2 separate regions of the Homo sapiens genome follow, and region 2 is linked to region 1. Evidence: fine-mapped expression QTL. A gene starts in region 1. The other region holds a variant in brackets. All regions are shown on one strand. Distances are from middle to middle. Region 1 holds the start of IATPR (ITGB1 adjacent tumor promoting lncRNA). Region 2 overlaps ITGB1-DT (ITGB1 divergent transcript).

What was found. PIP is the estimated chance that this variant, and not a neighbour inherited with it, causes the effect.
Region 2: its variant is fine-mapped to the expression of IATPR in whole blood (INTERVAL, PIP 0.93).

What each region holds. Positions count from the first base shown.
Region 1 is chr10:33,114,287-33,119,667 of GRCh38, reverse strand. It overlaps IATPR (ITGB1 adjacent tumor promoting lncRNA), which reads left to right and starts at 2,861. Exons shown (of 3, transcript NR_160030.1): 1 at 2,861-3,197.
Region 2 is chr10:33,071,217-33,076,597 of GRCh38, reverse strand. The region is part of intron 2 of ITGB1-DT (ITGB1 divergent transcript); the gene reads right to left. It overlaps IATPR (ITGB1 adjacent tumor promoting lncRNA), which reads left to right. Exons shown (of 3, transcript NR_160030.1): 2 at 1,615-1,736; 3 at 2,352-2,572. Among named protein-coding and RNA genes, the nearest start is that of IATPR, 43 kb to the left of the region's middle. RefSeq lists an enhancer at 168-669. The variant G/C (reference allele first, on the strand shown) is at 2,886.

The DNA.
Region 1 (5,381 bases):
TTAAAGTTAAGCTCCTTTCTCAGGATCATACTTATTAATGGCTGAGCTGAAACTAGAAAACAAACCTCCTTGAATTGCAAGTATATGGACAAGGACAAAAAGAAAATTGAAAAGAATAAAATCAGCTGATGTGTCTGAATAGCAGATTATTTTCTCTCCAATGTTCCTTGATTGTAATTTTGCCTTTTCAGTAAACAAAATCAGAACTTTTTTTTTAAAGCTGAGTCTTTATAAAGTGTTTGGGCAGGGTTGGAATATTTTGAAGTATGTAATTTTAAAATAAATAACTCAGATTGTAGGCACAACAGAAAACTACACAGTGAATGTTCTTCTCGCTACTTTCATTGACTTTGATTTTTCTGGTTCTAGAAAAATGGTAGAAAATTGGTTGTAGTCAGAATTAGAAATAAAAATATATTTAGTACCATTGTGTTTGAGGTAAAATATTTGCATGCATGTATACTTAAATGCCAAATACAAGTGCGTCACATTGCATGAATAATGGAAGTGTTAGACCCTAAAGATGCCCCAAGATTTTTTGAATACCACAGAATATCTCCATGGACCAGCCACTAGAATGAAAGTTCCATCTTTGTCCAGTTCTATGGTAGCAACAGAACATAGCAAGTTAAGGCATAATGGCCTCTGCTCTCTATAATAGGTATGGGCTCACGTTTATTTTCTATGTCAGGCCTTCTAGTGGGTATAATAAAGGTAGACACAATCTTTATTTCTATATGCTGACTAGACGCAAGGGAGAAGTAGTGACCCAGAAAAGACGAGTGGTGGGGGTGGAGTAGATGGTGAATAAGGTTTACAGTGATTCCTACTTAGTAAAGTTCAGTCACATTCTCAGGAGTGCATCTGTCTACAGCTGAGCTGAAACTAGAAGGCGAACAGTGAATAGAACAAGGATCAGAGGCTGTGCCACTGACACAGCAAACACTCCCATTTGTCCCTACAGTGTTCCACAAAAAACAAACCTGAAAAACTGTATCCAAGTCTCTGGTGGGGGCCAGGGGTCCAAAAATCTGCATATTTAACCAGTATCCCAGGCAATTGGGGGCACACTAAAATATCTGTGTTCCTGCATGTCACCTGCTCAACAACTCAGAAGGTTACAAAAAGTAATCCAAGACTCAGGGAGGTTCTGTCAAACAGTGCCTGGGAGAACCAAACTTGAGCCCTTCTGATGCCAGAAATAGACTGTGTTCTTCACTGCACATTGCCACAACCTGGTGGCAAGTCTTTACAATTCTCTGAGCCTTGGCCTCCTCTTGTGTAAAGTGAGAGGTTAGGATTTCTTTTGTGTTTGGCATTTGATGATGACCCGAGGTGAAAGAGTTGTCTGCATCCAAGACAGCTGGATACCAAGGTGCCATTTTGGATCAGAGAAACTTGCACAAACTCTGGGCCAAATGGTTTTACAGTGGTCTCTGACTCTCTCAGACTAATTTAAGATGTATCCCAGAACGATTAGCCTATGGCCCATTTATATCAAGATCCAGCTGAGTTCTAATTGGCACGAGCAACCGCTGGCATGGTACACACAAGTGCTTGCAAAGGTGATTGCCAACAGCCACCCAGCTGCAGCGGAGAGGATGTGGGCACAAACCCTTCAGATTAGGGTGTGTCACTTGAGACCAGGCCAGAGCCATCAAAGCACCCTGTTTTCCTCCACCCTTTCCGACTGCCCCAAGACTGGCACAGGGTTTAGTAATAGCGAAAGTAACACTTGCCCATGTAGGGACCAACAGTCTTTTCTAGGTTGAGTTTTCTAACTTGAGTGAGGTGCCAGACAGAAAGATGCCACCAGAGAGATTTGGCTCCCCAATGTGCCATGCAGTAAAGCCTGGCCCTTATGGCCTGCCGGACAGCATTACAACAAGTGACAAGCGCACATTTACTGTCATGGCCTGACTGAAAATCCTTGTCGTCTTAATTTGTCATTCCGAAATATATGAAAACACCTACTTAGGCCACAAAGCCTTCTTTTTTGCCTAATGGTGTTCTAGAAATAAACTGGCAGTGAAGGATACTGCATTGTTACGGGGATGTTGTCAGTTGGTTTCGTTTATCCATTTATCAATGCCATTTTGCAAGAAATAGTCTCTGCTTTAGAGATGACACTTCATACATAACAGGGAGGGCGTGAGTTTTCCTTAACTGCCAGAACATTACATAATATAACATGTCACCAGGCCTCAAATGCAGCAGCAAAGACTCTGTATATAGGCGACTCCAGAGCCAACATGTGCTTAGCCAAAAAAAATGATTCAATGCCTTCAGAATGTGGGATGCAAAATGAGATTCTGTAGGAGTCAGGGGTCAATGGTGGGAGAGTGCAAGAAACAGATCTGACAGCTCCCAAGTTCGGGGCAATCTGTTCTCAGTTAACTAATAGTTGAGAGGGATCGCTGAAGGATACAACATTGATACCCCAAAGCGCTCCAATCAGTTTCACTATTTGGCCTGATTTTATGTGTCTGTTTTCCATTCCTCCCTAACTCCTTCTTGGGCTGCAGAATGGGCCTCATTTGCAGGTTTGGTTACCAGTTATCAACTTCCACTGTGATAAAGGACAATTAGGATACAACATTGATACCCCAAAGCACTCCAATCAGTTTCACTATTTGGCCTGATTTTATGTGTCTGTTTCCTATCCCTCCCTAACTCCTTCTTGGGCTGCAGAATGGGCCTCACTTGCAGGTTTGGTTATCAGTTATCAACTTCCACTGGGATAAACGACAATTAGGAGGTGGTGGGGACAGGAGTCCTGCCTGTGAAGTCCCAGTTAATCACCAAGCCATACAACCTCCCCTAAAGAGTCAAGAGCGGATGCAGGCTGTTGATGTTTTTCATTCAAAGCTCGCAATGCACCGTTCTGAAAACTCTCCAGCGTAGAATTCAGGAACCCTGAGTTTTCTATCTCTGTCTAGTTCTGGACTGAATGGGCTCAAGTCATCTAGTTAACCTCTCTGGATTTCAGTCTTCTGAAAAGTGAAGCTAAGAGATCTAGCATTCTGCAGAAAAGTACTGGAGATGACTCAGGACTGAAAATGATCATGAAGCCCCTTTGCAAATATCAAAGTGGTGATGAAGCAGTCATGAACTTTGACCAGAAGCCGTGTTTTGTGGGATTGCCACTTTAATCGCTCCTGTTCATCATTAGGACTGCAGCCAGAGTGTGGAAGGAGGTGAGTGCTTTGGTGGTCTTGCTAGGTTGCGGAGCGTGGGCTTTTGTGGATATGCAACAGTGCCCTCTATTGGCATCCGGCATATTTTAAGCCACTGGAGCTGATAAGTCCATTTTCCTCTGCCCTGTGTCTTTGTACTTCTTAGTGGAGGCCCAGAGAGCTTGTGTGTAAGGGGCTGTGACCAGACTGCTCAGCAAGGGCTTTTGCTTCGCAGAGTGCTGCGCGTACATTAGAAAGCTGCTGAGTGGAAATCTTATTCCCTGGGATTTTAAACAGCCACATTTCCTGGCGTTTGACATCAATGGGACATTTAGCAAATGGAGTGCCAGATGGAGCTCCTGGCTCTATTTTCTGTAAGACACTTGAGAGTCAGAACCCTCCCAATGTTTGCGCTTGATAGGCTTGCCCACCGTAGGGCTGGCCACGGCTCAGTGGATGCGGGGCATTCTGCGGGCTTGCAACGCGGGGAGAGCGGGGACACACAGGATAGCACGTGGCAGCTCGGCCTGCATTGCTACACACAAAAGCATTTCAAGTTCCAGCATCCTTGGTAATTCACTTTAACACTCAGTCACTCACTTCTCTTATGTTATCTGACTTCCTTACAAGCCACATGCAAGAAAACAAATAGTAATTGACTCACACTTTCACAAGCACTGTCTCTCCTGAACTTCTCAAGGCAGTAAGCAAGGCAAACCTCGGTGCCACTGTTTTGGAGATCAAGAAATGGAAGCTTAGATTGTTGAGGGACTTGCCCACAGTTCCATGGTATCACCTTATAACTTATAGAAAAAGCAATGAAATCTCAGATTTTTTCTAATATCTAAGCAGTGCTGTCTTCCCCACCCCCCACCCCCTTTTGTTTTTTGAGACGGAGTCTCACTCTGTCTCCCAGGATGGAGTATAATGGCATGGTCTCGGCTTGCTGCAACCTCCACCTCCCAGGTTCAAGGGGTTCTCCCACCTCAGCCTCCCTAGTAGCTGGGACTACAGACACAGGCCACCACACCCAGCTAATTTTTGTATTTTTAGTAGAGACATGGTTTCACTATGTTGGCCAGGCTGGTCTCAAACTCCTGACCTCGTGATCCACCCGCCTCAGCTTCCCAAAGTGCTGGGGTTACAGGCGTGAGCCACCACTCCCGGCCTCTCTTCCCCCTTTCTATGTGAACACATGTACTTTTATTAAATCATTTTGATTATTTTCTATTAATAATTCACATTTATATGAATCACAGAATTCAAGATTACTATATAGTCCCTAGAAATTGCTTTATTACTCACTATATTTATGAAGGCTCCTAGTAAATCTCCATGATGATATTTGGAGAGTCTCTGATATATTCAAAGTTGTCCTGTTTTTATACTGAAGGCAGCCGACACTGATCCAGTCAATGAAATCGTGATTCTCTAAGAATGAATATTTGGATTTTTTTTTTCTTTTCATAAGGTTGCGTGTCTTTGGTGTTCAGGCAGGTAGATGCCACATTGCTTTATTAAATTGGTGTAATGGAGCATGGATTTTTTTATATTGTCATATGCAGTGATAATCTAAAATTCTAGAGCTATGATTCATCTCTGAGGATGTTTTACTCATATTGCACAATAACCAAAAAGTATTTAGACCTCAAACAGCGGGTTAACTGGGCATGGCCCTGTCCTTGTACAGTTTGCATGCTGTTATTTTTACAGATGTTCTCCTCAGTTCCCACCTTAATTCAGGTCAGGGGAGTTAATGGGAAATGAAACTGCATCTCCTCTACTTCCCTCCTTCCTGCACGGTTGACTTGAATTATAAACCAACAGCTATGCTCTGCCGGTTGATAACTGAGTTGTTTACCACCTCAACCAGAAGATGCAACGATTAGCTGTTTTTTTCTGGCTTTAGAAAAAGGTTACCTCGTAAATAGATGAGGAGACAATCTGCATATCTGCCCCATCTTACCTTTGACTTAGATACCTACTTCCCTACTGAAACAATAAACCAGTCTCTGGCTGTTGCTGCAGAAGAATCTGCTACAGAAATATCTGTCACACTTTAAAATTGTTTCCCACACACCAAACAAGCTCAACCGCTCTTCTCTTGTTCCAAAACAAAAGCCTTATCCTGTAGGACTCTTTCAACAAAAACCAATGAAGAACACCTTTACTTTTTCAAGTAAAACTAAAAATAATGATCACAAA
Region 2 (5,381 bases), 43 kb after region 1:
CCAGGGGGCATGGGGGCTGAGTGGTGCAGCCAGAAACATCAAGCCAGATGAGCTCCCCACATCAGCAAACTATACATGGGGAGGCAAGCACATCACCCTCCAAAGCACCCACCTGTGACCCACCTGGAGAGTCAGGTTTCTGATGCCTCCATCTACAGACATCAACAGCCAGGAAAGGCCGGGAGCAGTGGCTGAAGCCTGTAATCCCAGCACTTTGAGAGGCCTAGGTGAGCGGAACACTTGAGGTCAGGAGTTCAAGACCAGCCTGGTCAACATGGCGAATCCCCGTCTCTACTAAAAATACAATAATTAGCCGGGCATGGTGGCAGGTGTCTGTAGTCCCAGCTACTTGGGAGGCTAAGGCAGGAGAATTGCTTGAACCCGGGAGGTGGAGGTTGCAGTGAACCGAGATTGCCCCACTGCACTACAGCCTGGGCGACAAAGTGAGACTCCATCTAAAAAAAAAAAACAGCCGAGAGAGCTCCAACAACAGCAGCTAAATAAAAGCATTTGTCCCTTTTCTCTAATCACTTTGTTTCATGTCAACTACACAGCGGCTATAAGCAGAAGGTGAAAGAAATAAAAAAGCCAACCACTCCTCTCTCCTCTAGACAAGACTCTCCGTGCCTGGCAGCTCTTGGAGAAGGACATGAGCACTAATCTGACCAGAAATTTAAGTTTTGATCTGGACCCGACTGCATTTTATTTTATTTTTTTGAGACAGGCTCCCTCTGTCACCCAGGCTGGAGTGCAGTGGTGCAATCATAGCTCACTGCAGCCTCAAACTCCTGGGCTCAAGCAATCCTCCTACCTCAGCCTCTTGAGTGGCTGGGACTACAGGCATGAGCCACCGCGCCTGGTCCCCAACCGCATTATAACCGAGAAGCTGTGGGACCTATCATTAAGAGAAATGAAATGCAGATTCAACAGAACATATTGTAAGGTTGCATTTGGAGGAAAAATAAATACTTCTTGTGTGTTTCTCACTAAATTCATACCGTTTAATAAACCAATTACATTTACAAACATGCTGAACTCTCAACAGAGTGGTCTGAACTCTTGGGAGTAGACATAGTTCCAACTACCACAGAGAGTGGAAAAAAATTCAGAGTGGCCTTTCAACCAGAGCCCAGACACTGGAGTCTCAAAAATGTGTGCAAATGTACCGGGCACAGTGGCTCATGCCTATAATCCCAGCATTTTGGGAGGCCGAGGTAGGCGGATCACTTGAGGTCAGGAGTTCAAGACCAGCCTGGCCAACATGGTGAAACCCTGTCTCTACTAAAAATACAAAAATTAGTTGGGCGTGGTGGCTCGAGCCTATAATCCCAGCTACTAGGGAGGCTCAGACAGGAGAATCACTTGAACCTGAGAGGTGGAGGTTGCAGTGAGCCGAGATCCTGCCACTGCACTCCAGCCTGGGCAACAGAGCAAGACTCCATCTCAAAAAAAAAAATTGTGCAAAAGTGTGTGTGCACATCCATGAGTGTGTGTGAGACAGGGTGTGTTTGCATGTGAGCATGTGTGTGCAGAGTGAATATCAGGGTATCCACATGAGTGTGTGTGTGTATGAGGAACACATGAGATTGAACGTGTGTAATTGTATATCTCCAGTGACAGCACAGAGGAAGAGATGGTCCAAGACCAAAGAGGAAAGAAATGGCATAAGATGGGACAGTGTTCTATGATCTCTAACTGGCCAAAGAAAAATGAGAAACAAATTTAAAAGAAGACAGGTAAGTAAAGTAAGTTTAGCTGTAATTTGGATTCTCATTTAGGAACCAGGGTCTTAATCTAGAGGGAGAAGGAACTCAACATAATGTACTGTAATGGGGGTTTCCAGACTTGCTAACTTTATTCTCTCCCAAGCCATTTGTCTCTCTGTTAGTTTAATAATTTTCCACAGCTGCTGTGTAATATAACTACTGATGTACTACTGAGCCAATTTCTCCCAGCCAGTCCTACTGCCAGAGAAACTAATGGGAAGAGATAGCGCCAGGGTCTACCCTGCAAACCTGCAAGGGCTTGCAAATTGGGTCACAGTTTGCTCGTTGCTGAAGGGAACAGCACACACAGGCTGCCATCTCCATTTAATTTTTTTCTTTGTCTTGCAAACAGCAATATCTTTCTTTTGGAATTCTGAAGAAATCGATTGCTTTCATATTTCCCTGGCTCTTTAAGGAACAAAAAGCAAGTCCTGAAAAGTAAAGACATTCCTTTTAGGTCCAACTCACAGAAATTGTGGTGCAACAGCAGTGTTCGATTCCAGAAAGAGCAGGGATTCTATTTCTGTCAGTCTTATGTCTCCCTGAAACCATTTTACGATTATTTTGTGTCCTCTGTTTTCCCAGTTGGATGACTTAAACACCACCCCTGAGAGGCAGCTGTTTCCAGAATATTGCACAATTTATTGAGTTCATGAGAATCGTGATCGTTGGCAGCACCGAACTTCACGGAGGGAATCATAGGCACTTTAATTCCAATTTGTTGACTTATGGAGGAAGAAATTTCTCCCAGTGGTGTCCCTTCATCCAGGAACAAGAGCCATCAAAGTGTCACAGACTTAGAGCCGGAAGGGCTCTCCGCTAGTGTTTCTGCCAGTCCTCTTGGTTTTACACATGAGGAAACTGAGGCCCAGAGAAGTTACCCAGTAGCAGATCTGCAAGTCACCCAGTAGCAGATCTGCAAGGAGCTCTTAGCAATCCTGACTCCAAGTGTAATGCTCTTGCATTAGCTCTGTGCTGCCTCCTAGATGTTGGTCTTCTTAATGTTGATAGCACATTTGCTCAAATGTTTGCTAATATGGTTTGGCTGTGTCCTCACCCAAATCTCATCTTGAATTGTAGTTCCCATAATCCCCACTTGTCGTGGCAGGGACCCAGTGG[G/C]AGGTAATTTAATCATGGGTGTGGTTACCCTCATGCTGTTCTCATGATAGGGAGTGAAGTCTCACGAGATCTGATGGTTTTATAAACAAGAGTTCTCCTGCACAAGCTCTGTTGCCTGCTGCCATGTAAGAAGTCCCTTTGCTCTTCCTTCATCTTCCGCCATGATTGTGAGGCCTCCCCAGCCATAAGGAACCATGAGTTCATTAAACCTCTTTTTTTATAAATTACACAGTCTCCAGTATGTCTTTATTAGTAGCGTGAGAACAGACTAATACATTTGCCCTGCAAAACTTCCTTATTCTTAAGCAAAGTGATTTCCAAATTTTCTTCATTAGACACATAATTTAGAACTACGATTAACTAAACACTAACTGGGTGTCAATTACTGTACTATTTCCTGCACATGGACACATTTAGGGTCAAAGTACTGTACCAAGTATAATTTTCCTAGAAGCTATAAAATGTAGGGTATCAGTGAATGGAAAAAATAGAACATTAATTAATAAAAGAAATCTACTACAGAGAATCTTTTCCCCCTAAATATAACCATAGAGACTAGGCTGGTCATTATTTGCAGTTCACAAAAGAAAGAGGCTACAGAAATATTCACAGCTATTGAACGAGGTGGCTGGCAAGTGAATTTGGTGTAGGTGCATAAATTTGTGTGCTGGGGGTGTGTTATAAAAGAATAAAGTCTGGGTTCAGCTGGGTGATGGCAGGAAAAACAGGATCCCAGAAGGAGGCTGAAAGAGTTGGGAACAGATGGAATGACTGGCCTACATGTCAAGTCTCTTCAGCTGCCCACCTGGCCACAGAAAAGGCAAAGCTCTGCAAATGGATCATCTCGTTCTTACTGTAACACATAACAAGCAGTGGGCAACACAAACTCACCTGTGTCAATGGAAAGAGTTAAACTCTGTGACATATTTCAGAAGCTTTATTCTGAGTCAGATATGAGTGACCAAGGCCCGTGACACAGCCCCAAGAGGTCCTGAGAACATGTGCCCAAGGTGGTTGGGTTACAGCTTAATTTTATATCTTTTAGAGAGACAGAAGTTGTAGGCAGACATCAATTAATACATGTAAGGTGTACATTGGTTGGGTCTGGAAGCAGTTGTGGGGGACAGGCTGGGAGAGTGGGTATGGCTTCCAGGTCATAGTGGATTCAAAAATGTTCTGATTGCCAATCAGTTGAAAGCGTTAAGTTATTATCCAAAGACCTGGAATCAACAGAAAGGAAAGTCTTCTAGGTTAAGATAAGGGGTTGTGAAGACCAGGGATTTCATTATGCAAATGAAGCCTCTAGGCTGTAGAGAGAATAGAGAACAAATGTCTTTTATCAGACCTAAAAACTTGCCGAACCCTTAGTTAAATATCTCCCAGATGAGGTAAAGACCTAGAAAGGGAAGAGGATTCTCTACAGAATGTAGATTTCCTCACAAAAGACAGTTTTTCAGGGCCATTTAAAAAGATGTCAAAGAAATCTATTTTGGAGTAAAATACTTCAGTGTCTTTCAGGGCCTGCCATCTGTCCTATGATGCTATACTAGAGTCAGGTTGGAATTTGGTGTCTTCCCACTACAAAGAGTCTGCTTTGTCAGTCCTAAGATCTCTGTTTTAATGTTAACCCTGGTCAGTTGAGCCTGAATTCCAAAGGGAGGAGGGCATAAGGAGGTCTATCCAACAAGCCCCTCTTCCCATCACAGCTTGAACTAGTTTTTCAGGTTTACTTTGGAATGCCTCGGCCAAGAGGGAGATCCATTTAGTCATTCTGGAGGCTTAGAATTTTATTTTTGGTTTACACCTGTTATTTACCTTTTTTCTGCTACACTGGCAAAATAACCCCGTCTGCCCCTGAAAAAGGCTTCCTGGTAATCTCTCTCAGGAATCAGGGTGATTTCTCTAGTTGTTGGCGAGTTTGACAGATTGCAGGGGAAATGCTGCTTCATAATCCTGCTCCAGATGTGTTCTGACCCTAGAAGTGAACACCGAGAGCGTTCCGGTCCAACCCTACAGGAGACCAGGGAAGGAGCACCACCCAGAGAGAGAGTTCCGTACCTAAGTGCACCTTCATTTGGTATTTAAAAAAAAAAAAAAAAAAAAAAAAACAGCAAAGATGAAGGAATGTTGACAGGGCCACATGACATCAAACTAATCAGCAAGATCCCCCTCCAAGAAGTGTCTGAGTTCAAGGAATGAAAGTATTCTAATCAAACACAGAGCTTGAGAGGAGTATAAAAGACTTGGCAGAGAATCACTGAAGTAGGAAATTAATAAGGTTCAAACCTAGTGTTAAACAAGCCTTCTGAATTCCAAAATCCAACAAAGCATCTTTGGTTGTGTTCTGAAGTTAAAGAAACTATAGTCAAGGGTAACAAGAGGTAAGGGTCCCAGCTACAGGGGGCGGGGTGGGCCTTGGTTTGCTCAGTCCCCATTAAGCCAATGTTGGGGCAGGCAAAGACGGGATGAGATGAGAGAGGCTCCACCGTGCAAGCG